Regions from separate parts of the Homo sapiens genome. Here region 2 is linked to region 1. Evidence: fine-mapped expression QTL. A gene starts in region 1. The other region holds a variant in brackets. All regions are shown on one strand. Distances are from middle to middle. Region 1 holds the start of SHTN1 (shootin 1). Region 2 overlaps SHTN1 (shootin 1).

Region 1 (15,740 bases):
GGGGAGCAAATTGTATGATGTTTTGTAAGGGAAATATCCACTTTAGTAGCTAGGAAATATGCCTCGGAAATAGTATCCAAAGTTGCCATTTCTCGGTGCATTAAAGATGTCAATCAGTCCAATAAAATAAAGCCCCAAAAAAGACAAAAGGAGAATTACCTCATTACCTCAACATCTGCTTGAACATAAGCAATCACACACTGGCTAATTTTTTTTAAAGGGACATAATATAACTTTCTGGAAAGACATAATATAGCTAATTATACCATTCACTAGGAGGGAACATAAAATGTTTTGAAGTAATTCAGAAGTGGGTGTGATTTATAAGACATAGAGCTTAGGGAATGGTAAGTATAAATTAGAGATTGTTCATATTATGACAGACTCCGTCATTACATTTCACAACTTTTGTCAAAAGCAACCTTATTCACCACACCACTAAAGGCTTCACGTTAGGGAAGGCTGCTGTCAGCTTTGTGGTTTAGAGTAGACAGGAATCTCCTTTCTGAACACTCTCCTGGGGAACTGGTTCAAGTTTTAGACTTAAAACTTACTAAGGCAGGGCAAAATGAAGAGAGATTGTTTAATGGGTTCAAACATAGTTAGATACAAGGAGTAAGTTTTAACATTTTGATAGCAAAGTAGGGTGACTACAGTTAACAACAATGTATTATATATTTCAAAAGAGATAGAAGAGAGGACTTGAAATGTTCTCAACTCATTGAAATGATAAATACTGGAGGTAATGGATATCCCAAATACCCTGACTTGATCATTATGCATTCTAAGCATGTAACAAAATACCCCATGTCTTCTATAAATATGTACAAGTCTCATGTATCAGTTTAAAAAAAAATCACTAAGGAAGGACCCATATGATGAAACCTAAATGGCCAATGGCCATGTAAAAAGATTTCAAACATCACTAATAACCAGAGCAATGCAAATCTTAAAAGGTAACATTCTGCCCATTAGATTGGCAAAAATTCAAAAACTTGTCAGGCCATCAAATGAATAAAGATTGCTATTAGCCAGAGTTGACCAATGTGTGGGGAAATGGGTACTGCTGAAGGATATCTGAACTGGTATAATCATTTTGGAGGGCACTTTTGCAATGTCTAGCAAAAGTAAATGTCCGTGCCCTCTAATCCAACAATTCCATTTCTTCTAAGAATCTATCCTAGAATAAAAAAGTAATTGTACATTTATTCATATGATAACTTGAATAGTACCTGTCTTCTCTTCTAGAAAATTAATTTGGTGACAAGGACTGTGTAGTTCACTATTTACACCCCTAGTGCCTACCACATGGACCTGACATATGGTGGTACTTGATAAGTATTTGTTGAAGGAATGAATAAATATGTTTACTCAGCATTATTAAGGGAAAATAACATATTTGATAAATAGTGGTTCTTCTTGCTCACACTAAATAGGGGTAGTGGAATTATCACTCAGAATATTAACATTGTGAGTAAAAAGGTAGTAACAGGTAGTAAAAATTACTATTTTCAAAAATAAACCATGCAACCATCAGCTTACAAAATTGATCATAGTATGTACTGTTAAATGCTCAAAGACCCAGTTACCTGTTCTTCCAAATCCCTAGCTTCCCAATTAGTTCTACAGGTCAAACAGTAACTGAACACTTTTGAAGTAAATTGTTTCCACAGTCTGTGATCCAATGACAAGCAAACTACCTGGTTTTGAAATGTATAAAAATCACACTGTGGGCTGAAAAAATCCCAACACCTTTGTAACTAGACTCACTATCCCCAAAAGTGTACCTTTTAAGAAACACAACTTTGAATATCTAACTGTTCTATTACCTTTCATATGCACTTAATCAAGGAAATATATCCTCTAAAAATACCAATGCCAAGGATTTGTTTATTTTCCAATACAATGCAATAGGAGAAAGAGCCACAAATATAGAAATCCTTTTTGTCAGGCCTCAAACCCAACATAGGAATGGAGAATGTGTTCCGAAATCAAATATAAGCAATTTGCAGATTATCTACATTGTTAATCGACCCTTGATTATACAAGAAATGAAAGGGAAAATTTTTTTATGTTTATCATTATTCGAAAACTGACCAACCATAAGAAGATCTGATATCCACTGACAGATATTACCTATAATGAAAGCTCCACAAATCTAGAATATGAATCAAGTTTTAATGTTTTGGGTTGGGCGAAGGTGTATTAAATATAAAATACCAGTCAGTAGAATCCAGTCCCTCGCTAAAACACTTGAGAAACTTCAGATAAAGGCATTCTGTCCACCCACTAAATTCACTGATGCTTGTGACTTTATGACCTCAGGCTAATCTAGGATGCCAGGTAAAGGTGCTGGGAAGGCCAAAGAGACTAACATTTATCCAGCACTTTCTAGATGCTGGATATCACAGAAGAATGTGTTATGTCCATTTCAGAGGTTAAATAATTTCCCCAGGGTCACACAGTAAACAGTAATGTTGAAATTTGTTTGCCAGAGTGTGGCTTCAGAGGAATCCGGGAGCACTTCCCAACGGTGTCTGTGGTTTTACGCAACAACAGGTAAGAGTACTGGACAGGACCTCAGAAAGTCCTCCAGTTTCACCCTCGCCTTTAGTCAGGTCGGCCTTGATTGACCAGAAGATCCACGGAAGGAAAGAGACTCCTCCAAGTTCACAGAGCAGGTGAGCTGGGCCAAGAGAAGTGAAAGAGCTGCAACTAAATACCAGGTTTTGCCACAGAGCAGGGATCCTTCCATTACATGGTCTTGTCAGCAAGACATTCAGAAAAGTACATGTTCCTACACATTTTTACTTCCTTTAAATCTGTATGGTTCCTCCCTTTATTTCTTTATTATTTATTATTATTATTTTTTTTTGGAGATGGAGTTTCGTTCTTGTTGCCCAGGCTGGAGTGCAACGGCGCCATCTTGGCTCACCGCAACCTCCGCCTCCTGGCGATTCTCCTGCCTCAGCCTCCCGGGTAGCTGGGATTACAGGCATGCACCACCACGCCCGGCTAATTTTGTATTTTTAGTAGAGATAGGGGTTCTCCATGTTGGTTAGGCTGGTCTCGAACTCCTGACCTTAGGTGATCCACCTGCCTCGGCCTCCCAAATTGCTGAGATTACAGGCGTGAGCCACCGCACCCGGCTGGTTCCTCCCTGTCTTGACCCACATTCGCAGACCACCCTTTGGTCAGGGTAATAATGATAAGTGTTTAAATGTGATAGGTTAGCATTTGGTTGTTGATCTGGTTTGGTTCAGAAGTGTGGTAACTGATGAAAAAAATGATTGACTGAAGCAGGTCTTTATTAAAGGATAATCCCCAGTTACCAAGCAGTACAGAAATGCGTGCGCATGGCCTGGCTCTCCTTCGCCCAGCGTCAACCCTGTTAATTCTGAAAGCTCAACACTGGCAGGATGTTGACCTTGCTGACTAATAAACTGCTAAAATTGAGAAGTGATTAAAAAAAAAATTATGGCCTGAAAATCCCAGCTGGGCAAGGAAAGAGGAACTAGACCGAATCCAAACGAAAAGCTGGGAAGGGTGTGAAACAGCCCTACAGGCCACCCAGCGCCAACAAATGTGTAAGGGTGGGGCCAAGCTAGCTGAGCCGCCCAAAGCAGCCAAAATATCCTGCCCCACCCGCTTCTCCGGCAAGGAAGGTGGCACTGTGCAACCTCGTCCGCACTGAATCCTCGTCCCTTCCCCCAGCCCCCGATCGCCAGCAAACGCAACCAGCGGGCAGCGGGTCTCGAGCTGCGGGGCCTGACTAGCCCCGACACTCCGCGTTATCCTCGGTCCAGAGCTTTCCCAGGCGCGCCGGCCACGGAGGACGCTTCTCTGCGGGTGACGGAGCTACTGCGGTGACCACGGCGGCCGCCACGTCTCCCGCCCGGCTTCCAACTGCCCTGGCCCCAGCGCCCTGGGGCCGTCCCCGCCCACGGGCCGCGGCTGCCCACACCTGGCGCCCGCGTGCTGCCTACCTTGCTCCTTCAGACTGGTAATGAGCTGCAGCTGCTTCTCTTCGTCCGAGCTGTTCATTTTGGCGGGTGGGGCCGGGAATAAAAGGGAAAGAGGGAGCGGCGCGGGGCACACAGGAGGAGGGGGAAGAAAAAGCAAGATGCCGGTGGCTTGCGGCTCCACTACCCGGAAGTTGGATCCGCTCCCGCTCCTCCTCCTCCTGGCGCGGAGCGCGCGAGTGAGATCATCCCCACGCACCTACTCGGCGGCTGCGGCCGCTTCACCTGCAGGCGGGGCGGGGCGGGCCCAGCAGTCCCGTTCAGGGGGTGGAGGAACGAGGGCGGGTCGGCAGCCGCTATGCCAGCCTGTGGCTGCCGGCGCGGCAGGACGCGCTGGTGGGAGGGGGGGCGGCCCTGCGTGGGGTCGCTCCGCACCCTTTTCTCCGCCTCCACCTCCCGGACTCAGGGACGCGAGTTCAGAGAAAACCGGCTGTGGGTTCGCAGCGTGTGTGGGAACTCCACTTTGGACGCTTCCCGGGGGTCGCTCCCAAAGAACCACAGAGGTAGAGCGGGACGCAATGAGCCATGAACGCCTGGGCTTCTTCCCTAGTTTTCCCGCAGTAGACTCTGGGGGCGCGGTTGCAAAACCTAGCTGCCCACAGGGGCGGGCCCAGGGTGGTACATTTTGCACCTTGAAGAGGAGACAAGGATCGAATCAGGCCGCCCAGCTACTTAAATGACCATGCCGTGAGTGAAGGAGGGCCCTGGCTAGCTTTCCCCCATCGCACCAGGTTTGCCAGGTGGTCAGAACGTGGACCCTGCTGCACGTGGATGGTGGGGCCTGGAGGGCCCTTGCAGATCATCTGGTTGGTGGCGGGATGACCTTCCCTTTAGAGAGGGTGCCACTGCAGTCCGAATGCCGAAGGTCACGCAGCCCCCGGGCAGCAGAGGCTGGCAGTTAAGCCAAGCGTTTGTCCCAGTTCACTGCCCTCTGAACTATTTGAACTCATGTCTGTGTTAGACCATGCCCAGGAGAGAAGTGGCAGGTCTGCATTGTTTCAAAGGTGCTTCTCCCCAACCCCTAGTTGCGAGCTAACCTTTGGTCAAGTCTCCTGCATCTTTGAACTTCATCTGAAGAATAGGAAGAATAGTGATACCTACTCTCAAGGAAGAGTTGTAAGGATTTAATAGAGGAAGATTAACAAAACACCAAGTCCAGAATTTATAATGCAGTTTTTTTTTGTTTTTTTTTTGTTTTTTTGTTTTTAATAAAGATTACAGGTCTGTGGCCGGGCACAGTGGCTCACGCCTGTAATCCCAGCACTTTGGGAGGCCAAGGCGGGCAGATCACGAGGTCAGGAGATCGAGACCATCCTGGCTAACACGGTGAAACCCCGTCTCTACTAAAAATACAAAAAATTAGCCGGGCGTGGTGGCAGGCGCCTGTAGTCCCACCTACTCGGGAAGCTGAGGCAGGAGAATGGCGTGAACCCGGGAGGCGGAGCTTGCAGTGAGCCGAGATCGCGCCACTGCACTCCAGCCTGGGTGACAGAGTGAGACTCCGTCTCAAAAAAAAAAAAAAAAAAAAATTACAGGTCTGTGAGAAAGGGGTTGTGGTTGCTGACTATAAGCTGAAGGTTGCAGTTCTTTTACACTGATCATTAAGCATGGGAGATAAGTCCAAACTGAATTAGACTTATTGCACAGCTTGGTTTTTCTCACTACCTCTAAGCTCTTAGTTTGGGTACAGCAACAGCACAGTGCTGCTCATTCCTCAATTGCTGTTTTATGGAAGTGCCCAGCTCCATTTCTTGTGTTCATTTCTCCATGATAGTTGTAGAGTGAGGTTGAGATATGGGTAAATCCTGTAACTAGTGTCTTTCTGATACTCACTACATGCTAACTAAAATTTTGAAAAAAAAAATGGTAGCACTGCTTTCTCTTTCTCTAAAATGGCAATATAGTACTTTAGCATGAGTGATTTAGGGGTAGAATGATCTAAAAGGGCAGCATAGTATTTTTTAATACAGTGTATTAAAATGTTTAAAGTTTAAAAATAATTTTGATATGGGATTGTATTATTCAGCCCTTTCCCTAGGTATGCGTAAGATAATTCAAGATAGTTGCAGATAGCTGCCATGAAGATCCCCAGGAGATAATAATAAAAAAATCCGGGAGATTTTAATGAAAAATAATGGACATTTAGCTTTTGTCCAGCAGTTGGGAAACCTGTTAAACCTGATGAGTCATCCTGACTCATTCTCTCTCACTCTACCAAATACAAGCAGAGTGCCCATTAAATATTTGGCTTAGTTCACAAAGTTCCATTTTTTTTTAATGGCTGATTTGTCTACTCCAATTATACAGTAGTTAGATAGTATTTCTGGAGTTTAAGAATGAGTTAATTATCAAATCTATAATCAAACTTTTGGTTCCATACTAAATCTGCGGCCTCTTGCAATTAATCCCATTTATCCTCCTTAAAATTAGAAAAGGCTCCTGAGCTGAGATTCTGCCACTGCACTGCAGCCTGGGTGACAGAGTGAGACTCCATCTCAAAAAAAAAAAAAAAAAAAAAAAAAACTCCTGAAATACAATATGGCATTCACTTGAGGACATGGTATGAATTATTAGGAGGGCTATTAGAGTCCTTATTGGGATTCAGTTCTCCCATTACACTATTGTTTATTTATATGATATGAATATTGATGGAAAGGATAGAAGTGATAAATTAGTTTTTGTTCCGTTTAATAATATACAGAGTGATGGCTATGGGAGGCCGAGGCGGGCAGATCACGAGGTCAGGAGATTGAGACCATCCTGGCTAACACGGTGAAACCCTGTCTCTACTAAAAATAAAAAAAGCTGGGTGTGGTGGCGGGCACCTGTAGTCCCAGCTACTCGGGAGGCTGAGGCAGGAGAATCACTTGAACCCGAGAGGCGAAGGTTGCAGTGAGCCGAGATCATGCCACTGCACTCCAGCCTGGGTGACAGAGCGAGACTCCATCTCAATAATAATAATATACATAGTGATTTATGTTGCAGGCATCACGTTGGAGTTACTATTGACCTCCAAATAACAGGTCATTTAAAACCCTTAAAAATGTGTGTGTTTACATATATATATACAAATATATACATAGAGATAAAGGACAGACTTTTAAAAAATGAATTGGAAGAATATGTGCCAAACTCAGGATAATGGCTGTCTCTAGGGATAGAAAGTAGGGGAACAGGACCAAGGTGTGGGGGTTGGAGTGTGAAAGTGCAGTGGTCAAGAAGGAGTTTCTCTTTAATCTTTATTTAATTTTTCAGGTAATTAAAGTAAAATCACATATGTCATCTTTTGAGGTATACAGATAAATAAGATTGAAATACAATGAGGAGAAGAAGGTTCACTGTCTTTGATCCACTAATTCTATATCAGGGAATCTATCCTAAAAGGCTTATGTACAGAGCTATTTAATGTAATGTTAATTATCATATGAAAATGGCAATATTGGAATATTATTTGGTAATAAAAATAAAGTACTGATATATGGTACAACACAGATGAAATTTGAAAACATTATACTCAGTGAAAACTTGATCAGAAAAGACCAGATATTGTATGATTGCACTTGTATAAAATGATCACAACAGGCAAATCCATAGAGGGAGAAAGTTGATTGGTGAGTATCTACTGAGGTGGGGTGAAAGTAGGGGAGGTCTGGGAGAAAACAGGGAATGGCTGCTGATAGGTGTGTGGTTAATTGTTGGGGTAATACAAATTTTCTAAAATTAATTGTGGTAATGGTTGTACAATTCTCTGAATATACTCAAAACTATAGAATTGGCCGGGCGCTGTGGCTCACGCCTGTAATCCCAGTACTCTGGGAGGCCAGGGCGGGTGGATCACCGGAGGTCAGGAGTTTGAGACCAGCCTGACCAATATGAAGAAACCCAATCTCTATTAAAAATATAAAAAATAAGCTGGGCGTGGTGGCACATGCCTGTAATCCCAGCTACTCAGGAGGCTGAGGCAGGAGAATCACTTGAACTCAGGAGGAGGAGGTTGCAATGAGCCGAGATCGTGCCATTGCACTCCAGCCTGGGCAACAAGAGCAAAATTCTGTCTCAAAAAAAAGAAAAGAAAAGAAAATATCAACCAAATATGCACAAAAGGAAAGGAGAAAGAAGTCAAAATGATTACCAAAAACATACACATTTTTTTAAAAACTAAGTATAAAATAAGGCAATAATGAAGCAAATGAAGAGCAAAAGAGCTATAAGACATATAGATAATACATAGCAAAATTGCAGAAATAAGTCATTTCTTATTAACTGTAACTTTAAATGAAGATGGCTTAAACTCTCCAAAAGGCAAACACTGGCAGGATGCAAAAAAAAGTATGATCTAACTATATGATGTCTACAAAATATTTATTTTAGATCCAAAGACAACAATAGATTTAAAGCAAAATGGTAGGAAAAAATTTAATTAGTAACCAAAAGAGAGTTGGGGTGGTTATATTAATATCAGACAAAACAGACTTTAAGTCAAAAACTGTTACAATAAACAAAAGTCTATATTCACAAAAGGGTTGATTCGGTAAGAATATATAATTACTATAAACATATATACAAGCTGGGCACGGTGGCTCAAGCCCGTAATCCCAGCACTTTGGGAGGCCGAGACGGGCAGATCACGAGGTCAGGAGATTGAGACCATCCTGGCTAACACTGTGAAACCCCGTCTCTACTAAAAATACAAAAAATTAGCCGGGCGTGGTGGCGGGCGCCTGTAGTCCCAGCTACTGGGAGGCTGAGGCAGGAGAATGGCATGAACCCGGAAGGCGGAGCTTGCAATGAGCCGAGATCGCGCCACTGCACTCCAGCCTGGGCGACAGAGTGAGACTGTCTCAAAAAAAAGGAAAAGAAAAAAAAAACTTATGGAATACCGTGAAGACAGTGCTCAGAGAGAAATTTATAGTTCTAATTACTACATTATAAAAGAAAGATACAAAATCAATAAGGTAACTGTACACCTTGAGAAAATAGACAAGCAAAATAAACCTAAAGTTAGCAGAAGGAATAAAATAATGAAGATTAGAGTGGAGATAAAATAAAAGACAATAGAAAAATAATAGAATTAATAAAAAGCTATTTCTTTGAAAGTATCAAAATTGACAATCCTTTCCCTAAATTAACGAAGAAAAAAAAGAAATATGAAAATCAGATATTAAAATGGGGACAGTAATACCAATGATTCAGAAATAAAAAGGATTCTAAGAGAATAATAAGAACAATTATATGTCAACAAATTAAATAACCTAGAAGAAATGGACAAATTCCCAGAAACACACAAGTCACCTAAACTAACTGAAAAAGAAAATTTCAGCAGAACTATTATAAGTAGAGTAATTCAGAAAGTATTAAAAAAAGAAAAGAAAAGAAAAGAAAGACACCCTTCAATGAAAATAAGTTCAGGCCCAGATGTCTTTCCTGGTGAATTCTATCAAACATTTAAAGAATTAACACCAGTCTTTCTCAAACTTTTCTAAAACACAAAAAAGGAGAGAACACTTCCTAACTCATTCTATGAGGCCAGCATTTCTGTGATACCAAAGCCAGATAAGGATATCACAAAGAAAAGAAATGTACACACCAATTTCTCTTATGAATATGGTTGCAAAAATCCTCAACAAAATACTAACAAACCAAATCCAACAACACATTAAAAGGATTATACACCACGACCAGGTAGTACTTATTCCAGGAATGCAAAAGTGGTTCAACATAAGAAAATCAATCAATGTAATATGTCACATTAATAGGAAAAAAACCAGGTGATCATCTCAATTGAGACAGAAAAGGCATTTGACAAAAGTCAGCATCGTTTCACCATAAAAACTCTTAGCAAACCAGTAATAGATGGAACATCCTCACCATGATAAAGGGCATCTGTAAAGAAGCCACAGCTATAATCATGGTCAATGGTGAAAGACTGAAAGCTTTCCCCCTGAAATTAGGAACGAGACAAGAATATGTGCTTTCATCACTGCTATTCAACAGTGTGCTGCAAGTTCAATTAGACAAGAAAAAGAAAGAAAAGGCATCCAAGTTGGAAAGGAGGACGTAAAGCTATCTCTATTCACATATGACATATAGCTATATAGAGAAAATCCCAAATAATCTGTGAAAAAGCTACTAGAGCTAATAGATGAATTCAGTAGTTTTAGCTGAATTTAGCTCTTAAGTTTAGGTCTTTGGTCCATTTTTAGTTAATTTTTGTTAGGCCTTTTCTACCTTCATACCAACTTCAGTCTTTTGCATGTGGATATCTACTTTTCCCAATACCACTTGTTAAATGGCTGTCCTTTCCCCATTGAGTGGTCTTGGTACCCTTGTTGAAAATCAACTGGTGATATACATGAGGATTTATTTTGGGGCTCTCTATTTTATTCTATTAGTCAATATGTCTGTCCTTATGCCAGTACCATCTCTATTCATAGATGGCAAAATTTCCTATGTGGAAAATACCAAAGAATTTCTTTAAATGCTTCTAAAACAAATACTTGAGTTTAGTGAGGTTACAGGATACAAGGTCAATAAGCCCTTGAAAAGATGCTCAACATCATTAGTCATTAGACAAATGCAAAAGTCAACTGTATTCCATACACCAGCAATGAACAATTAGAATTTGACATTAAAAATTAATAACATTTACAATAGCACTAAAAATACTGAAGCACTTAGGTATAAATCTAGCAAAATATGTGAAAGATCTAGATGCCAAAAAGTATAAAATGCTGATGAAAAAAATCAAAGAGTATCTAAATAAATGGAGAGATATATTATGTTCATGAATTAGAAAACTCAGGCGGGGCGCGGTGGCTCACGCCTGTAATCCCAGCACTTTGGGAGGCCGAGGAGGGCGGATCACGAAGTCAGGAGATCGAGACAATCCTGGCTAACACGGTGAAACCCTGTCTCTAATAAAAATACAAAAAATTAGCCAGGCGTGGTGGCGGGGCCTGTAGTCCCAGCTACTCCGGAGGCTGAGGCAGGAGAATGGCGTGAACCCGGGAGGTGGAGCTTGCAGTGAGCCGAGATCGCGCCACTGCATTCCAGCCTGGGCGACAGAATGAGACTCCATCTCAAAAAAAAAAAAAAAGAGAAAAAGGAAAAAAAACCCTCAATATTGCTAAAATGTCAATTCTTCCAAATTTAACCTATAGATCCAATGCAATCCCAATCCAAATCCAAGCTGATCATAAAATGTATTATGGAAAGGCAAAAAACAAAACAAAACAAAAACTAGAATAGCCAAAACAATTCTGAATAAGAACAAAGTTGGAGGACTCACGCTACCTGATTTCCAAGACTAACTATAAAGCTACAATAATTAAGACAATGTAGTATTGGCAAAAGGAAGATGCATTAACCATCCCAAAAGTTGATCCACACAAATATAGTGAATCACTTTTTTTCTGCAAAGTAACAAAACCAATTCAATGGGAAAAAAAAAGTCTTTTCAAAACTTGGTGCTAGATCAACTGGACATCCTTTCTTTTTTTTATAAAAAGGAGCCGCAACACATGCCTCATAGAAAAATTAACTCAAAATGGATAATAGACCAAAATGTAAAACCTGAAACAGTAAAACTTTAAAAATGAGACACAAGAGAAAAAACCGTGTAACCTAAAGTCTGGCAATTAGTTTTTAAATACGATGCCAAAAGCGTAATCAATAAAAGAATTGATAAATTAGATTTTATGAAAGATAAAAGAAACAGATTAACAATACCTGCCATAGATGAGGGAAAATATTTACAAATTACATATTAATTCACATTTTAAAAATCACATATTAATATTTTGTATCACACATTAAATAAATCACATATTAATATTTTGTATTCTAAATATTTAAAGTACTCTTAAAACTCCAACAATAAGAGCCAATGTAGTGGCTTGTGCCTGTAATTTCAGCTCTTCAGAAGGCTGAGCTGGAGGATTTTGAGCCTAGAAGTTTAAGGCTGCAGTGAACCACTGCATTCCAGCTTGGGCAACAGAACAAGACCCCATCTCTAAAAACTATATAAATTTTTTTAAAAATAAATATTAAAATAAGTCAAAAGTAAAAAAGATTAATTGGCAAAATATATAAACAGATACTTTACCAAAAGAAGTTTATTTATTTATTTATTTTTTGAGACTGAGTCTTGCTCTGTGTCCCAGGCTGGAGTGCAGTGGTACCATCTCGGCTCACTGCAACCTCTGCCTCCCTGGTTCAAGTGATTCTCCTGCCTCAGCCTCCCCAGTAGCTGGGCTACAGGCACCCGCCACCACGCCCACCTAATTTTTGTATTTTTAGTAGAGACAGGGTTTCACTATGTTGGCCAGGCTGATCTCAAACTCTTGATCTCAGGTGATCTGCCCACCTCGGCCTCCCAAAGTGCTGGGATTACAGGAATAAGCCACCATGCCTGGCCCAGAAAAATATTTTTAAATGGAAAATAAGCACATGAAAAGATGCTCAACATTATTTGTCACTAGTGAAATGCAAGTTAAAACAACAATGATATAATACTATGTATCTATTAGGATGGCTAAAATAAAAAAGGAACAATCCCAAATGCTGAGAAAGACACAGAGCAACAGTAACCCTCTTTAATTGCAGGTAGCTATTTTAAATGGTACAGCCGCTTTGAAAGACAACTTAGCAGTTCCTTATAAAATTAGAAATACATTTGCCATACAACTTGGTGGTTCCACTCCCGGGGCTTACCCAAATGAGCGGAAAACTTATGTTCACAGAAAAACCCATATACAAATGTTTATAACAGCTTTATTAATAATCACCAATAACTGGAAAAAGCCAAGATGTCCCTCAATAGGTGAATGAACAAATATATATATCTTCCAAATATGTGTGTGTGTATATATATATTTTTTTTCCATAAAATGGAATATATACATCAATTTTAAAAGAATGAGCTACTGAGTGGATACAGTGTATACAGATCTTGAATGCATTCTGTTAAATTTAATAATCCAGACCCAGAAGGCTATATACAATATGGTTCAATTTATATGACATCATGAAAAGGCAAAACTATAAAAATAAGAAACAGATCATGGCTACCAGGGGTTGAGGACGAATGGAAGGGTTGAATATAAAGGGGGAATACAAGGGAATTTTTAGGGTGATAGAATTATTCTGTATGGTACAGGGGTGTTGGATAGATGACTCAATGCACTTGTCAAAATCCAAAGAGGTATACATCCCAAAAATGGACTTTGCTGCATGCAAATTTAATAACAAGTCAGCCAAGATAGGGAAATCCCAGGATAGAATGCAGAAAATGACAAATAAATCGAACCATATTACTAATATATGACATTACCTTACTGAAGGGGAAGGGATGGGGGAAAGGATCTGACTTAAGAAACTTTGGATAACTGTACTTTGACTGGACACCGTAAGGCTGAAGACAAAAGGAACCATACATCAGCACCCTTCTAGCTGGCAAATCTACCTCTCTCTAGAGTATGGGTTAGCAATTCTCAAACTACTCTACATGTAGGGTAGGGTTGAATAAATAAGTAAATCAACTGTAGATAATGGGAGGCAGGTTTCTCACCATAAGAGAAAGAAGTTACAGTCAGTTCTGCTACAACACAACTTATGTGTTCTTAAAAATTATTATGCTGTGCAAAATTGTACAATAAAAACCATAGGTCTCATGGGAAAAATGAAGCTAGTAGCACAACATTTAAAAACTTATTCAGTGAAAGATTAGAACAAAAATAGGAACCTAATTTTAAAATAGTACCATAGTTTTATATAAGAAATGATTAAGAAATGCATAATGCTACAATCAATGTGGTATTTTAGTTTTAAAACACCTAAAGTTTGTGAACATAGGCATCATAAAGGCTACAGCTTTTGAGTTACTGCAAAGTGATGGAAGAAGGGTTATTTGAAATCCAATGGGAAAGTTGTAACAGCACATGTGGATGGGTGTGGCTCATTATCCTTGGTTTTGTGGTTGGATTCAAACATCACAGTACTTTCAAAGTCTTAAATCCTGAGGCATTTTTTTTTTCCCTGACTGATTTGCAGGTCCTTCAAGGAAGGCATTTGTAACAGATATCTGTTTCATCTAAGTTAGAATTTCAATCCAATAAATGGCCTTCTTCTTAATTAACTTCTGTGTCACTGTTGGACTTCTTTGCTACTTTCTCAGCTGTACTTGCCTTTCCCAGCTGGACTCTGGCTCTGCTGACAGCTGAAGGCTTTGGAAATTGTAGTAATTTTTTTTGTTTGTTTTGGTTTTTTGTTTTTGTTGTTGTTTGTTTGTTTTAAGATGGAGTTTTGCTCTTGTCACCCAGGCTGGAGTGCAATGGCACGATCTCAGCTCCCCACAACCTGTGCCTCCCAGGTTCAAGCGATTCTCCTGCTTCAGCCTCCTGAGTAGCTGGGATTACAGGCATGCACCACCACGCCTGGCTAATTTTGTATTTTTAGTACAGACGGGATTTCTCCATGTTGGTCAGGCTGGTCTCGAACTTCCAACCTCAGGTAATTCGCCTGCCTCAGCCTCCCAAAGTGCTGGGATTACAGGCGTGAGCCACCGTGCCCGGCCTGTAGTAATGTTTGAAACCACAAATCCAGCCACTATCTACACTAAATGGAACCACTTCTGCAAGATGTGGCAATTTCTTTGAAAGTCTTCATATACAGTGCTTTCTTTCTGATTGTAGGAAAAAATGTTCCTGTTTGGTTTTCAATTCAAATGCTCAACAATCTTTCTATTTCTTCTAATTCTTCAGGCTGTGTTCCTATTGACTCTATAGCATTTGAAGTTAAGCCATCATAGATGTTTCTTTTGTTTTCACGGTATTGTTCTTCAAGGTCCTCAATGTGGATTCCTTTATGCTTGAAAGATGTTATGCTATTTTGTTTTTTGATAAACACTTCATTATTTCAAGTTTCTCCTCAATACCTAAAGCTTTCTTTTTGCATTCACTGCTTAGCATTTTTGAACCACACATTTAGATGTGTTTGAGGTATATATATTTCTCACTGCTTCACAAATGTGAAAGAATAGCATTCTTATACAGATTCACAAATGTAAACAAATAGCACTCTTACACAGGTTCAAAAATGTAAAAGAATGGCATTCTTTTACAGGTTCACAAATGTAAAAGAATAGCAAAACATAACCTTATTGGATAATACATATGATGAACTAAGGTAGTTGTAGATGTTTGAGGCGTATGTGTGTCTGTGTGTGCGTTTTATGTATCCCAATTTGGCTTGATTTAGATGGATGCAATTTTCTCTGTTCATCTAGTGTTCCTCAAGGATGAAATCATACAAAAGAAATGTGAAATATGTACCATGCTCAAATTATTCCTTTTGTTTGTTTGTTTGTTTGAGACTGAGTCTCGCTCTGTCACCTAGACTGGAGTGCAGTGGTGCAATCTCGGCTGTCTGCAACCTCTGCCTCCTGGCTTCAAGCGATTTTCCAGACTCAGCCTCCTAAGTAGCTGGAACTACGGGCGTGTGCCACCACGCCCGGCTACTTTTTGTATTTTTAGTAGAGGCAGGGTTTTACTATGCTGGCCAGCCTGATCTTGAACTCCTGACCTTAGGTGATCTGCCTGCCTCAGCCTCCCAAAGTGTTGGGATTACAGGCGTGAGCCATCGCACCTGGCCAAATTATTCCTTAATATATCAGTTGCACTGGAATAAAACAAACATTGTATCAGAATTAACATAAGAAAG
Region 2 (15,740 bases), 55 kb before region 1:
AAATTTGACATTTGGCATGTGTCTTAAAGCAACTCTTGGACATGTGCACCAGATGACATGTCTAACATTTTTTATAACAGCATGACTCAGAATAGCAGAAATATGGAAACAGCCCAAAGTCTACCAATAGGATACTACTTAAAATAATTTTAGTGTAGTCATCTAATGGAATAGTATATAGCAGTGAAAACAAACATACCACAGCTATGCCTGTCCACATGCATGAATCTCACAAACACAAAAAGTTGCAGAAGGTTACAGGAAAAATGATTCCATTTACATAGAGTTCAAAAATATGCAAAATTAAACAATGCTGTTTAGAGATATAGACATATTTGGCAAAACTACAAATAAAAGAAAGGAAATAATAAAAATTCAAGGGAGGGGTAAGAGTAGAGAGGGATGTTCATGGGTTTGTAAGGTACCAGCAAGTATAAAGAGATTCCTTTTACTGGTATTTCCTCTGTCTTCCATATATATATAAATATATATATAAACATATTTAACAAAACATTTAATATGTATATATGTAGAGAGAGTTTTTTTTAAGATTGGAAGAATATACACTAAAATGGTACTAGTGCTTATCTCTGGATTGTAAAGGTTGAGATTTTTTTCTTTCCTTACATGAATCTAAATTTTCCACCAAAAAAAGTATACTACCTGAATATATACATTTTTATGTATAAAAATATATGTATTATATATAATATTAAATGTAAATAAATGTATAAATTATGTATATGTATATACATATGTATAAAATGTAAATATTTTATATATAAATATATAAAATGATTTATATATAAATATATAAAATGATTTATATATAAATATATAAAATGATTTATATATAAATATATAAAATGATTTATATATAAATATATAAAATGATTTATATATAAATATATAAAATGATTTATATATAAATATATAAAATGATTTATATATAAATATATAAAATGATTTATATATATAATATATATATATGTTTTATTTATTTATTTATTTATTTTTTGAGAGATGGAGTCTCACTATGTCTGTCGCCCAGGCTGGAAGGCAGTGGTGCAATCTTGGTTCACTGCAACCTCCGCCTCCTAGGTTCAAGTGATTCTCCTGCCTCAGCCTCCTGAGTAGCTGGGATTACAGGCAGGTGCGTGCCACCATATCTGGCTAATTTTTGTATTTCAGTAGAGACGAGGTTTTACCATGTTGGCCAGGCTGGTCTCAAACTCCTGATCTCAAGTAATCCGCCCACCTCAGCCTCCCAAAGTGCTGGGATTACAGGTGTGAGCCACCGCGCCTGGACATATAAGTTATTTTTAAGTGTTCTCCATATTTACAAAGGAGAGAAACAGCCTTAGATGCATTCAGAACCAAAGAATCAGAGCTTTGTACCAAGGAGTTACTGCAAGACCGAAAGCTTCAAAAGGTCCTGTCAAATAAAAGTAATATAAATTCTTTGCTATTTTCAACATTCAGTGGCCTATTTTGTTAAATAGTGATAATGACAGGACAGAGGGAGTGACGATACCATTAGATATTAGGCACAAGCTGGGCAGACAGCACACTGTCCATCCACTTCTGGTGAGTCACCTCCACCCTGAGCTGAGTCATACCAACAAAATCTTTCAAAAGGCTCTCTTAACAGCTGCCTTCACACACTGCTCCACCAGGGCACTTCAATCCTAACTGACTTAAGGACTGGTTTGCTGCGTAATGACATAGAATTTCAAACTCTGTACTCAATCTACAGCCTCTTCAGATGAAAGACTAATAAGTAAAGCAATAAGAGTGGTGATTTTTTGGTGTGAATTATAGGTCCCTGAGAGCTAAATGATTTTCAAGCCTATTTAAACAAGAAATTTCATGAAGAAAACAAAGAACACTATGACGATCTGAAGCCCAGGCAAGATAATTGACTCTCTTTTCTATGTCCAGAACACTATAATAAAAAGGGAATTTTCACGTGTCCTGGCCCTTCTGACTTGGAATCTGAAAGAAATCAGGTTGGTCCTAGTCAGGTATTTATTTATATAATTTTTCTCTCTTCCTAGACAGGGGACTCTCTGAAGGCAAGATCTACATGATTAATCCTTGCAGAACCCTTTTCCTAGCACAGTGAATCAAGACTGAAAATTCTACACCATTTCTATCTTTAAATACAGAAAGACTTGGAGAAATGTTACAATCCAGCATATTGCCCACATTTAACTACAAGGTCCTTTATTTACAAAAAAAATTCCCAGTTGATGAATCACAAAAAGATTGACAGCTACCACCAATAACAATAGGGAAGGCCCTGGGTCGCAAAGGTTTCCTGTTAGTGTTGCAGCTTCTAAACAAGGAAAGAGAGTGACTGAGGGAAAAAGAGAGAACAGAAAGTATATTAAGTTCTTCTTACCACTTCCAGAATTATTTTTGCAGAACTACACTTTGGCATCACTTCCTTGTCTTAAACTGGGAGATACATGAAACAGCCCCGATGAGAGCTGATGCTGTGTTTTATAACTAGATGGATAAAGTCACTGTTGCCCAAAGTACACAAAGTTTTCTCTGGATATAGCCACTGGAGACACTTCCCTCTCACCAGGAGAGCAGGTCTGCTTTTCCTGATCATTAGGTTCATTTTCATGTGATTCATTTAAATGATCATCAATCTCTTATTGCACTGACTGTCAGACAGCTCAGAACCAGATTTCAAACACACAGGCAGGAAATGTGCAAGACCTCAGAACAAGTATGCACTTTGTATACCAATCTAACTCTTACTTTCCTTTATCCCTTTTTCCACATCCTCTTAATTTAAAATTTCATCACATAATGTTACATGTTTTATGTAGACAGCCTAACCTCTTCTGGATTGAGATTTACTAAATAACCTACCAAACATATAAATGCTGAGGGGAGAGCTAAAAAGGCCATGATCCCTGGATATATGTAAGACAGAAATAGTATTTCGGTTTGAAGTTTCAAAATGAGTGGGTTCCTTGTTCCTCAAGTGAAATCACTTTTAGATGTCCCCAGACTCTAAGTTGGGTAATAAAACAATGGAAATGGGAGAGACACAATGCTAGAAAATCACAATATAGGAGAAGATTTTATTTACAGTCATATTTAGGCACAGGTGTAAAATGACACACAATATATGCAAACAGAACACACCGCATACGTATTTGAGAAAAAAAGACTGGACAGACTTACCTCTATTGCATTTTTCTAAGACTTTTCTCTGTTCAAGAACTTCTGAATTTAAAACAGTCTTTTCTTGTTTAACTTTATTTACCTAAAAATGTGAAATTTTGAGGGGAGAAAACACCAAAAATTGTAAAACAGGACATATGGCAATGTGTGATACTCAATTGCTGTTCAACTTTCAACATGAAGTTACAATTTAAAGCAGAAATTGGTTTCAATGTGTTAGGACTTTTTATTAAAGCTCTTCTTTAAAGCTTCAAGGATAGCTATTTAAGTTAGGATGTATACCTGGTACAGAACTTATTTATATATTCCAGTTGGCACTGGCACCTAAACATAACAGTATGCTAGCCATCCAATGTATATGATACATATTTTTTTAATTAAAAAAAAACAAAGAATATAGAGATGGGGTCTCCTATGTTGCCGAGGCTGGTCTCGAACTCCTGGGCTCAAGCAATCCTCCTGCTTCAGCCTCCCGAAGTGCTGGGATTACAGGCGTGAGCCACCATACCCAGCCATGATTCATATTTTTAATGCAAAAATCCAACTAAAGATCACCCAGAAAATACAAGAATCATTTAGTCAAGATCCGATACTCAATTTTGGTATTCATTTTAAATGTTGATTAGCATTAGGAGATATACCTAATGTAAATGACAAGTTAATGGGTGCAGCACACCAACATGGCACATGTATACATATGTAACAAACCTGCACATTGTGCACATGTGCCCTAGAACTTAAAGTATAATAATTTAAATAAAATACAATAAAATAAAAATGCTGATTATTTTTGACTTAAGTAAGATGAACATGAACTTTTAAAATAAGACTTTGAACTCTGATGACTCTTGGCTTAAATAAAACACATATAAATACTCCCACAAAAATTTAAATTTCTGAAGTAACTTTTGATGTCTATCAACGAAAGAGAATACTATAGAAAAGTTTTTTTAAAAAAAAAGAACATAAAGTAAAGCTACATATATCAAGGTAGAAGATAAATCTCAAATATATTGAATTTAGAAAGCAGGCATGTTTATAATATTTAAAAACACTCAAAATACTATGTATTGTAGTGAACATGTAAATATATGCACTGACATGATAAACACCAAGTTCAGAATAACAGTTGTTTAGGGAAACTGGGCAGGGAGCAAGGAGTATGCAACCAGAAAGAGTTACACCAGGGCTTTCATCACCATGCTAATATTCTGTGAATTAAGTTGGGTAGCAGGTATATGGATGTTCATTAAAAATAATTTTTTTAGAGACAGGGTCTCAGTCTGTCACTCAGGCTGGAGGGTGGTAATACGATCATAGCTCATTGCAGCCTGGAACTCCTGGGTTCAAGCAATCCTCCCACCTCAGCCCTCTGAGTAGCTGGGACTACAGGCACATGCCACCATGCCTGGCTAATATTTTTAAAAATTTTTTTGAGAGACGAGGTCTTGCTAGGAGGTCTTGCTGATCTCCAACTCCTGGGCTCAAGTGATCCTCCTGCCTCGGCCTCCCAAAGTGCTAGGATTACAGGCGTGAGCCACTGAACTCAGCCCCATTATTTTGTTCATTATGCCTTCTCAGATGTCTGAAATAGCCATAATAAAAATAATTGTTGAATTGTCTTCCAATAATACCTCTAAGTGGGAAGCGAGAGAATCATCAGTAAATAATCACAACTGAGGAACAGAGCACACTAAGAAACAAAGATAATGGTCCTGAAAGTGGCTCTGAATCCATCAGCACCTCCAGATAATCTATTAACTGGTTCTTTTAGTGTAGGCTTTATTTTTGGTTTTGGTTTAAATTAGTAACTGGTACACATTGTCCAACGGTAAGGTCCTTTCCAAAATATCATCTTCCTTCTTCCCATTCGTTACAATGTTTTGCCACAATAATAAAAGGAGCTCAGGCTGGGAAGTTGGCAGACACTGCTTTCCAACCTTTTTTACATCATGGCCTCCAAGAAAATGACAATATGTGTGTGCAAACTGAGGTAACTGGATGAGGCTGCTCACTGACAGGATCAATACGTTGGCATGCTCATAAGTCACTTTATCAAGCTGCAGTTGGCACATCAGTTGGGAAGTGCTGGGCTACAGAATCTAAGAACCACTGATACAAATTAAATCCAGAATCAAGACTGTGAAGGCAAATCCTTGAAGCCTCGTGCAAATAAAAGGCAATTGTGAGGGTCTTGTTCTGAAAGACAGTTCAAAAGGAAAAAGAGGCCAGGGCAGCGGCTTGCATTGGTGGTCCCAGCACTTTGGGAGGCCAAGGTGGGAAGATCATTCAAGTCCAGGAGTTCAAGGTAAGCCTGGGAAATACAGGAACCCACATCTCTATAAAAATTTTTAAAAATCAGGCAGGCGTGGTGACGCATGCCTGTACTCTCAGCTATTTGGGAGGCTGAGGCAGGAGGATCATTTGAGCCTGGGAGGTTGAGGCGGCAGTGAGCTGTGATCATGCCACTGCACTCCAGCCTGAGTGTGACAGAGTTAGGTCTTGTCTCAAACAAAACAAAACACCAGAAAAGAAAGATTCTGTAAACAACCACTTGAACCCATCCTACCACCTATCATAAATGCCTGTGTTGGAGATGCACAGAGGGACAGTCCTTCCCAATTGAACCAGTCATTCACCGGAAAAGCAAAACATGCTCTTCTTTCTCTACCAGCAGCAATAAAATATATGACTTGAAATAGTAGCTACTATTCTTACAAATTTGCCTTACATAGCAAAAACTGGGGGAACAACAGGAAACATGTCCATGCTATTTCAGAATTTTATTTATTAAGCTAGCTAGTGGGTACATGAATCTTCATCATCTTATTTCCTCTACCTTTTTTTATGTCTGAAATTGAGGAGAGAAGATTAAAATTGGTACATGGTTCTCATGTTAGAAATTGGCTTATAATATTAAGTTCTTAACTTAGCAAATCCCCAAACACCTTGAAAATGCTAAAGCCCTTGCCTTTCAGGCCTGAGATACATACTTCTTCAATTACTTCTACGAGTTTGCTCTTGAGATTTTCCAGCTCAATGGCTAAAATCTTCTTTTCCTCCTGAACAGATACAATTTGATCTCGAAGTTCTGCATTTTTAAAGAAAAAAAATATATAAATAAACTTATTTTTAAAATAAGAAATCAATCTGGTCAAAAGAATTGAAAATGCCAGTCCATGTGCAGCTTATGGTCAAGATTATTTAACAATTAAAAAGAAATGAAGAACCAAAGGACAATGAGAATCTCATTTGCGTGGCCCTCCCCAAAATAGCCATGGATATTAACAATTTTATATCAGGCAACCTCACTACATTAAATGTACCAGATCATGTTTTCTTTGCATTCTATCAAAACCACATTCTAGAAAACTATCTAGCATTTTGGAAGTAAAATTTTTTAAGTTTTCAGCAAAACAAATTAAGGTGTAGTACTAATTTCTTTTTTATTTCATAATGCCATGGGCTGTTATCACAATAAAATATAAACAATTGGGATGTTAATAATTTGGATATTTTGATTAGAAGTAAAAGATCCTGACTTGCTGCCAATTTATAGTCCTTAGACATTATTTGAACTGATTCAAAATATAACTATTTGAAAGAAGGGTTAATTCTAGTAATTTTCTCTCTAGAGTCATGGGTGTTTTGTTTTTAAATTTATTTCATAGTTTTATTATTAGGATTCAATGAAAAGTGTGTCACTAGAATGAGAGTATTATCAACTGTAAGCGCAAAAGCTTCTGGTGTTAAAGTTACTTCTGTCACTCAAATGTTTGAAAATACACATAGATTAGCACAGACTACTCAAATTCATATTCTGGCCTACTGTTTTGTCACTTAGGTTTTAACTGCCTTTAATTTCTTACTGTTTTCCAAGTGCAATAAAGAATATGTTATGTGGTTATTTGTAAATTAAATCAAACTTTTTACATAAACTCAGCTTGGAGAAGTTCTCAGAGACTTATTTCTGAATCACTTTCTCCATTTGCTGGCTAATCCAGAAAGAAGAACATGAAACCATATTG[T/C]TCAAGCTCGAACAGAAAGGAGAATAATGAGCAAAGGGAACTCCTTTAAACTTCCTCTCCCTCCCTACCAACATGAATTCTATTTTGTGTTAGCTTGAGGGGTTGAAGAGTAGGTAAAGATGGTGTCTGTAACATCCTTTCTTCTTTATACTTCCAGTTGAAATTTTATCTACCAAACAAATAAATGAATATTGCTTTTGACCTGTGTACTAAATTAAAATGTTCCAATAGTTACTGAGCCAGAACTGCTTTCCTACATCTTTAAATAAACATGTGTATGAGTAAAATGAATGTGCATTCAGTAGATGTATCATATGATCTTGCCTTACAACACTACTTGTTAACCAACAAAAAGGGGTGTCGCTAAATATATTTTTATTCATTGTTTCTTTCATTTAACAAAAATATCTTGACATATAGTACATATCCTTAAGGTTATAGTATAACTGGCTGCTTCCATTGAGACACTTTCAAAAGTGCTTAATTCCAAACAAGAAAGTAACTCATAAAGCACAATTGTTATATACCCTATGGTGATTTGGAGATATAAATAAATGATGTGGGAAGCTTTCAAAATACTGATGCCTAGGTCCTACCCCATCCAAAATTCTGATTTAATTGGCCTATGGTGTAGCAAAATTTTGGATAGGGTAGGACCCAGGCATCAGTTTTGTGTTTTGTTTTTTTTTTTTTTTTTTTTTTGAGACAGAGTCTCGCTCTGTCGCTCAGGCTGGAGTGCAACGGCGCAATCTCGGCTCACTGCAACCTCTGCCTCCTGGGTTCAAGTGATTCTCCCGCCTCAGCCTCCCAAGTAGCTGGGATTACAGGCACCTGCCACCACGCCCAGCTAATTTTTGTATTTTTTAGTAGAGACCGGGTTTCACCAGGTTGGCCAAGTTGGTCTCCAACTCCTGACCTCAGGTGATCCACCCGCCTTGGCCTCCCAAAGTGCTAGGATTACAGGCGTGAGCCACCACGCCCTGCCTAGGCATCAGTATTTTGAAAGCTTCCCACATGATTCTGATGTGCAGTCAGGGTTCAGAAGCACTATCATAACGGGGTAAAAAATATGCTCAATAATTAAGCAAAGAGTTCTACCTTTAATTTGCTTCTGACACTGTACTGAGACACAAGTCTCGGCGGCACCGTCTGTGTCTGTAGTCGAATCTTCATCATCAATGTTTATCTCTTCAGTTATTACATCTGGTCCCAGCTTGGCCATGTACAACATGCTGATTCTTTTCAACGTTTTATTTTCTTTATTTAGCTAAGACAAAATATAAAAACAGTTATTTTAAAAGCAGCCAAATGAGTATCTTGGATTTTTAAACAATAGACAAATTAAGTATATTTTTGTCTTACATATTCATCAACACTCACAGCAGGACATAACAATTAGTGGATTCATTAAATAAGGTTTTATATTAAATTTATTTCTTTAACCAAGATCTGATGTCTGGATTACAGCCAGCAGCAAGTGGAAATGCTAGTTGTAACTGATGAGAAATATAAGGAACTAAGATAAAACACCAGTACAGATTAAATAAAATTCTGATTTATAGTCATTAATAGTCTTAAAAAAGGCACTTTATTTCAAGCAAATCTTCTGCGTGCTGTGGTGCTGAGAACACCTTTTAAATGTCTGTTTGCCTAACATCTCTCTTTTCTGGACATTACCACTTTCCATTGTTCCACATGATTTCAATGGGAGTGCCATGCTCTCCCAAGCACACCCCATCCCTTTGGCCACAGCGAATTAGTCCAGGGATTAAACACATGACCCAAGTGTGACCAGTCAGATCCCCTCGCTAGAAATTTGGAGGCTGGAACAGAGCAATGAGTTTCTTTCCATGTGCCTGGACAGGAGCTGCTGGTAACCACATTCCACTATAGGATCAAGGAAAAGAGGAAGGTAGTTTTTAGAAAAGCTAAAACTGAAGCTGATGTGTAGAGAAAGGAAGAGAAAAGCAACAGAGAAAGGGTTTCCCACCAGACTCAAGCCCCAGACTCCAGTCCATTCCTAAACTGCTCCTGTCTCAGAGATTCTATGGAAGTCTCTGATATTTCTAACAGATCCCACATCATTTTCTTTTCTTGTTTAAACTAGTTCAAGATGTTGTTTCTACTATCTCTATTAAAAGAGTTCTACTTCACAGCAAAAAAAAAAAAAAAAAAAAGGAATCCTACTTTGTTAATGTATTTTTTATTCCCGGACAGGGAAATGAGTTGGTTTTTTAACTTCAGTTATTCAACTATTATCACCTTCTTTAGCTAATGTGTTTATGTACAAGAAAATTTAGGACAAAGCACACACAAAGACTAAGGATGTTCCAATGTCCACAGAAGTACAATATGGTTTTGCTCATATTTTCTCTTCCCAAGACTAAAAAATAAACAGTTTTCCTTAATTTGCGCACATCAAAGTAATCAGTAGATTATTTTCCCTACTATAAAATGTAAGTTATAGAAATGCAAATACATTTCCTTTACTAGAGCCCTTGACCAGGAAGACATGCTCTGAATTTAATAATTGATATTGGAAACAAATGAACATAGTTCATTGGAAAGATAACTACCTTTCCTCACTGTAAACCTGACACTAGAATAAGATATTTAGCATAGCACTGGTCTGACTTTGCTCTTTCATTTGTGATCATAATTAGGGTTCCTCAGGGTTTCTCATAGAGAAAGCCCAGCCCACTTTAATCTGGGAGATCTGATTTCTACCCCAATAATATGGAACCTAAAGTGGCATGGTCTGGAGCACGAGAGGTTTGTCTGACCTCTTTGGAGAATCAGGAAGAATCTCTAAGAAATGGTTATGAACTCTTCCATGGATTCTTCCTGGAAGACTGGCAAGCTCTATTCAGGAAATCAGACACAACCCTTTATCCTCAGTCCCAGTCTCCAACTCTAGCTTCTGTCTGCACACATTACATTAGGAGATCAAGATAAAAGATGAGGCCCATCATTTCCCAACACCTCTTCCTTAAGTTGGAAAATTCAGATAAAAACTGTTGTGGGTTCTTTAAACCATGAATGCTACAGCATGGCACACGAAGCTCAAGGACCCTCACTTGTCAATTCTCAAACTATCCCATCTTTTAGGAATGTCAGAAGAAAACATCAATTTAAGGAAAAAGTGAAGACATTTAAGACTTAATTTCTGGTTCTGTATCCTAATATTTAAACTAATGGTTCTCAACTCTGGCCATCAGAATCTCTGGAGAGCTTTTTAAAAACCTCAATGCTTAGGCGCTATGCCATACCCAAATCTCTGGCAGTGAAGCCCAGCATAGCCCTTTTTCAGTTTCCCAGGTGATTCTAATGTACATCAACACTAAGAATCATTGATGTAAAGAAACGCATTGCTTTAGTATACAACCCAGCTCTGCAATAAAATTCCATCTCTGCCTCTACAACTAACCTAATCCTTATGTTTCAGTTTTCTCATCAGTAAACTAAGAATTAAGATAGTCTGTATCCCACAATATGATGACTAAATGAGACATTATATATAAAGTATTTAATATAGTAACTGCCACACAGTAAAACTTCAGTGTTAGTTATTCATAGTAAGAAGAGGTTTAGTTTGTGTCTAATTATCCTTTGGAAATCATTTATCAGCTAGTTTTCTTCAAAGTATTCATTTAGGCATTTTCTCCTTCCTCCAGGATACTCAAGAAACTACTAGTTTCTGTCATCTAGTGCTTAATATATTACTTCTTAGACAACCACTACAATAATACCTTAGCAACATCATAGCTAACAGTTCTGCCCTCAAAAGGGTTTAATGCCCCTATCAAACCAGGCACCAAAATCCACCAGTTTGTCTGCAATACAATTACTCTACTTAACAAAGTCACCAGCTCAAGAAAAAAAAGCCAATCAGAAAATTTCATAATCCTTCTCTGAAACCCCATTTTCGCATTTTGAAAGAAGAAATGTAAGATTTATATATATGAGGGTTTTTTTTGTTTTGTTTTTTTGGAGATGGGTTCTTGCTCTGTCACCCAGGTTAGAGTGCAGTGGTATGATCATAGCTCACCACAGCCTCAAAGTCTCAAACTCCTGAGCTCAAGTGACCCTCCCACCTTGTCCTTCCAAAGCACTGGGATTACAGGAGTGAGCCACCACACCCGGCCTAGACATGAGGTCTTATGTGCATACTATTTGAACATTTTTGAGAATTCTGAATTCACAAATTTTGGCTAAGTAATTTCATTGTAGCTATTCATCAAGCTATAGGTTAATTGCATGCTACTTGTTGTTTGGAACCCCTCTATGTCTAAGGCAAAAATATATCTTTTTACTTTTTTTTTTTTTTTTTTGAGATGGAGTCTCTCTGTCACCAGGTTGGAGTAGAGCTGCGTGATTTCAGCTCACTGCAACCTCTGACTCCCTGGTTCAAGCGATTCTCCTGCCTCAGCCTCCCGAGTAACTGCGATTACAGGCACACACCACCACGCCCAGCTAAGCTTTGCATTTTTAGTAGAGACGGGGTTTCACCATGTTTGCCAGGATGGTCTCAATCTCCTGACCTCAGGTGATCTGCCCACCTCAGCCTCCCAAAGTGCTGGGATTACAGGCGTGAGCCACCGTGCCCAGCCAAAAATATATCTTTTATAACCCTACAGTAACAGAACCTACTATTATATTCAAATGTAAATAGGGTTTTTATATTGTCCAGTTTAGTGGCTATTTAAAGGTACAAAACAAGCAAGTTTAATGGCTTTGGATCATATGACTTAAATAACTGGTCCACATTTATCAGTTTAATCTACACATTTTAGCAAAGCAAAGTATCCATACTTGCTTCTAAGAAAATATGAGGAACTGGGCGCAGTGGCTCACGCCTGTAATCCCAGCACTTTGGGAGGCTAAGGCGGGCAGGTCACCTGAGGTCAGGAGTTTGAGACCAGCCTGGTCAACACAGTGAAACACTGTCTCTACTAAAAACACAGAAATTAACTGGGTGTGGTGGCACATGCCTGTAATCCCAGCTACTCGGGAGACTGAGGCAGGAGAATTGCTTGAATCTGGGAGGTGGAGGTTGCAGTGAGCCAAGATGGCATCACGGCACTCCAGCCTGGACAACAGAGCAGGACTCCATTTCAAAAAGAAAAAAAAGAAAATTACGAGGTCAAGCTGCATCATCAGAATTAAACATTCCATTTGTCATTAATTTGATGGCAAAAATTTAGAAAAATAAGAATTTATAGAAACTTTGCTCTCAGGAAAAAAAATGAGCATTTTTGAAAGCCTCCTTTCAAAAATGACAATTGATACTTAAATCAGAATGAAGTCACACATATAATGAAGTTTCCACATTTTGCATTCAAAGCAGTCTTTCACAACAAACAAGCACATTTATAGTATTTGATTTAATCCATTTTTTAAATTTTTTTCTAGGCCCCATGAGTTCATACTATATCTTCAAAAATAAACTATATGTTCATTTTAAAAAAGGGTTTTTAAAGAACAGGCAACAAACAGTGTTAGGTAAGGATCCTATTATTAAGACTTAATTGTAAAAATGAGCTTAGAGATTAGGTAACACTGGTTCGTAACGAGCAATGAATATAACAGTCACCAGGCAGCTTTTCTACATGCACATGCCTGGGCCACACATCTAGAGCCAATGGATCTGGGGTATTATGATGAAGCCAACCATGGTCCATCCTGGCATTTAGAGCAAGACAACTGTAGCTCAGAGAGGTGAGTTCTCTTGCCCAAAAACACCTATTAAATAAAAGGGGAGACAGAATAAAGTAATTTTTTAAAAGGGGCCATATGCAAATAAATTATTAACTCCAGTCCTAACTCTAGTCCATCATGTCATTTAAGATGAGATACTACACTCCAGAGAACAAAATTAACTTGTCCAAAATCACATATGCCCAAAATTACATAACCAGGAACAAAACCTGTATATACTGTCCCACAAACCAGTGCCTTCCATAAACTCTGCCAATCCTGAAAGGTAGCCAGTATCCTCACTCTGGATGTGCTATGACAACAGGAATACTTGTTAATAACAAGAAAAAATAGAGAGTATATCCTTAGACACTAGAAGATTCAGAGCAGCTAGCAGGCTCCAAATGTACTTTTTCTCTACTTATTCCAAAGAAAGAAATTCAAAAATGAAAATAGAATTCACACAACATTACGGACTAGTGAACTCTAGGAATGTGCCGCAGAGTAAAAATGATGTGAGAATACCCATGTTATCATTTTTTAAAAAGTGTTTTTAAAGTGTATTGCTGTGTATTCTTCAGATGAATAACAGGAGAGAAGTTACATACCCAAATTTATATTCTTAGTTAGGTCCTGATTAAATATCTTATGAATTCTAATGTAGTGTTGTTATGCAAACAATTAAGCAAATACCTCTAGGAAGCACACTGTTAATGCATACAAATTACATTTATTTATGTATTTATTGAGAGTAGGATTTCAGTCACATCCAAAGAAATTTTCGGAGGTGGGTGATGGAGGGGAGGGAAAAGAAACACAACCAGTATTACTAATGAAATTTGGTTGAAAATTGCTGTAATCCACTTTCTGATGAAGTGGTTCAGATGCATTTTACCCAACCCAAAATACATAAGACAGAGATAAAAAAAACATTCTTTAATAATAATGTACTTCTGATGAGATAGAATGTAGAAAATTACACACTTGGTAAATTCATCAGCAAGAGGCAATCAGTGGAACACTGGAGGTCACCTTCAGCATGCCCTCGCTTTGCTTTCATAAATAATCACCTGAAATGCACGGCTTCAGGGTGACTTTTTCATCTGATTCAAATATGAGACATTCACTGCTCTTTTATGTCACACCAGGTTAGTTTTAAACTTGGTTAGCATTTTAACCAAATGCATGGACATTTGCAAAGTCCCCTTTAACACTACTCTGGGACCATTTTTTCCACATTTTCACAGGCAAAAAGCACAAATGCTGAAATACTCACATACAAATGCTCCTTTTACAATTTGGAATAACCTTTGCATTAAGGTGAATATTTACATAATCATATTCCAGGATTCTGAGGCCTTTTAACATTTCCCTCATCATCAGAGTAGATAATCGATTAGAGAAGTAGAAAAGCAAAACCAGATAGAAGCCACTGCTTAGAAAAGCAAGTTGAAATTTAAAAGCTCAGGTAAAATTCCTTCATTTGAAGTCTCACCTTTGTTGCCAAAGCTTCAGCACTTTCTCGACAAGTCTTCTCTATTTCAAGATGGTTCTGCATGAAATTAACTTCCTCTATGACCATGTGAGAAACTAGGAATGAGGGGGAAAAAAAATCTCAGCATTCAAAGATTAGTCAGCTATTCCAGGAGCCCACGCATCGTCCCATGATTAAGAATACTTCAATTCTTTGGCTAGCCAGACCTTTAGCTATCACTGAAAAAAGGTTTTTGAGAAGCTGCCCTGATTAAATCTGAGCTAATATTTGAATGTAGAAAGAAACAAGAACACAACAAAATACATTCATTTCACATACATACATTTTATTATGTACATTTTAAGAGCGCTATTTAGATTTTTTTACAAGTCTATTTTCTATGCAACTATATATGTATCCATAGACATATGTGCTAGTTTAAACAAAAGAATATTTCATAAATAAAGAGGAGTGACAGCATGACTTCTTTTTCTCAGCAGTGTATAACACATGGCTCTAATAAGAAAAATTAACAAAAAATAAAAGAAAAATAAATCTTAAATTGATCTTATGACTGGAGTAGTGATGTGGCGACTTGGCTAAGTACTGCAACATTTGTCTCTATTAGCTACAAAGTAGTTACTGCTATTTCATAAGTAACTCTCAGGCAGAAAAGTATAGCAGTAAGATTTATGTACTATATGGTTATAAAGCAGATGCTAATAAATTACTTCCTGAATCATAGGCTATCAGAAGCATTAGAAGAAAAATAAAATTTTACTTGATATGTCACCAATGCTCGAAAAATTGTATTTTTTAGATTTTTTGACAGCTGGTGCATGTAAATTGAGATTTACAGGTATAAAGTGATTTAGAACTTGAGTTATATTTTGAAGATCAAGAAAGAAAAATGCCAATTCCTTCCACCCATATTTCTAGTTAAATGAAAACTCTCAGAATCTCAACCCTAAATGTAGACATTACTTATTGCTATTTGTTTGGCTTAAAAAAAAAAAAATTAAAGGACACCCAAATGTGAAACCCAACAAAGTTAGGCAAAAAGCACTGGGCTCACATAACACAAAGAGAGATTACTTTTGCTTCATTTAAGCTTAATTAACCTGCAATTATGATTAAACTCAGGGGAAAAAATTTCTCTCCAAATTAAATACAAAAATGTATTACTTCCTAAGTCTGTCCAAAGTTCTTATTATGTTAATATTCAAATTCATAAAGCAGCACTAAATGGCCAGAAACATCTCTAACCTTGACATTTTTTCAGGGGTAATAATAATCTGCAGCAAATGCAGGCCAACCAAAAACCACTTAACTAATTA

Evidence for each region.
Region 2: its variant is fine-mapped to the expression of SHTN1 in whole blood (TOPMed, PIP above 0.99). The same link has a PIP of 0.9 or more in T cells, blood mononuclear cells, lung and monocytes.

The regions. Positions count from the first base shown.
Region 1 is chr10:117,001,036-117,016,775 of GRCh38, forward strand. It overlaps SHTN1 (shootin 1), which reads right to left and starts at 4,152. Exons shown (of 17, transcript NM_001127211.3): 1 at 3,987-4,152. The coding sequence starts at 4,044. RefSeq lists an enhancer at 3,235-3,928 and silencers at 3,743-4,037, 3,909-4,018, 4,249-4,328.
Region 2 is chr10:116,945,712-116,961,451 of GRCh38, forward strand. SHTN1 (shootin 1) reads right to left here. Exons shown (of 17, transcript NM_001127211.3): 4 at 14,425-14,519; 5 at 8,331-8,499; 6 at 6,198-6,295; 7 at 3,205-3,286. Among named protein-coding and RNA genes, the nearest start is that of SHTN1, 52 kb to the right of the region's middle. The variant T/C (reference allele first, on the strand shown) is at 7,233.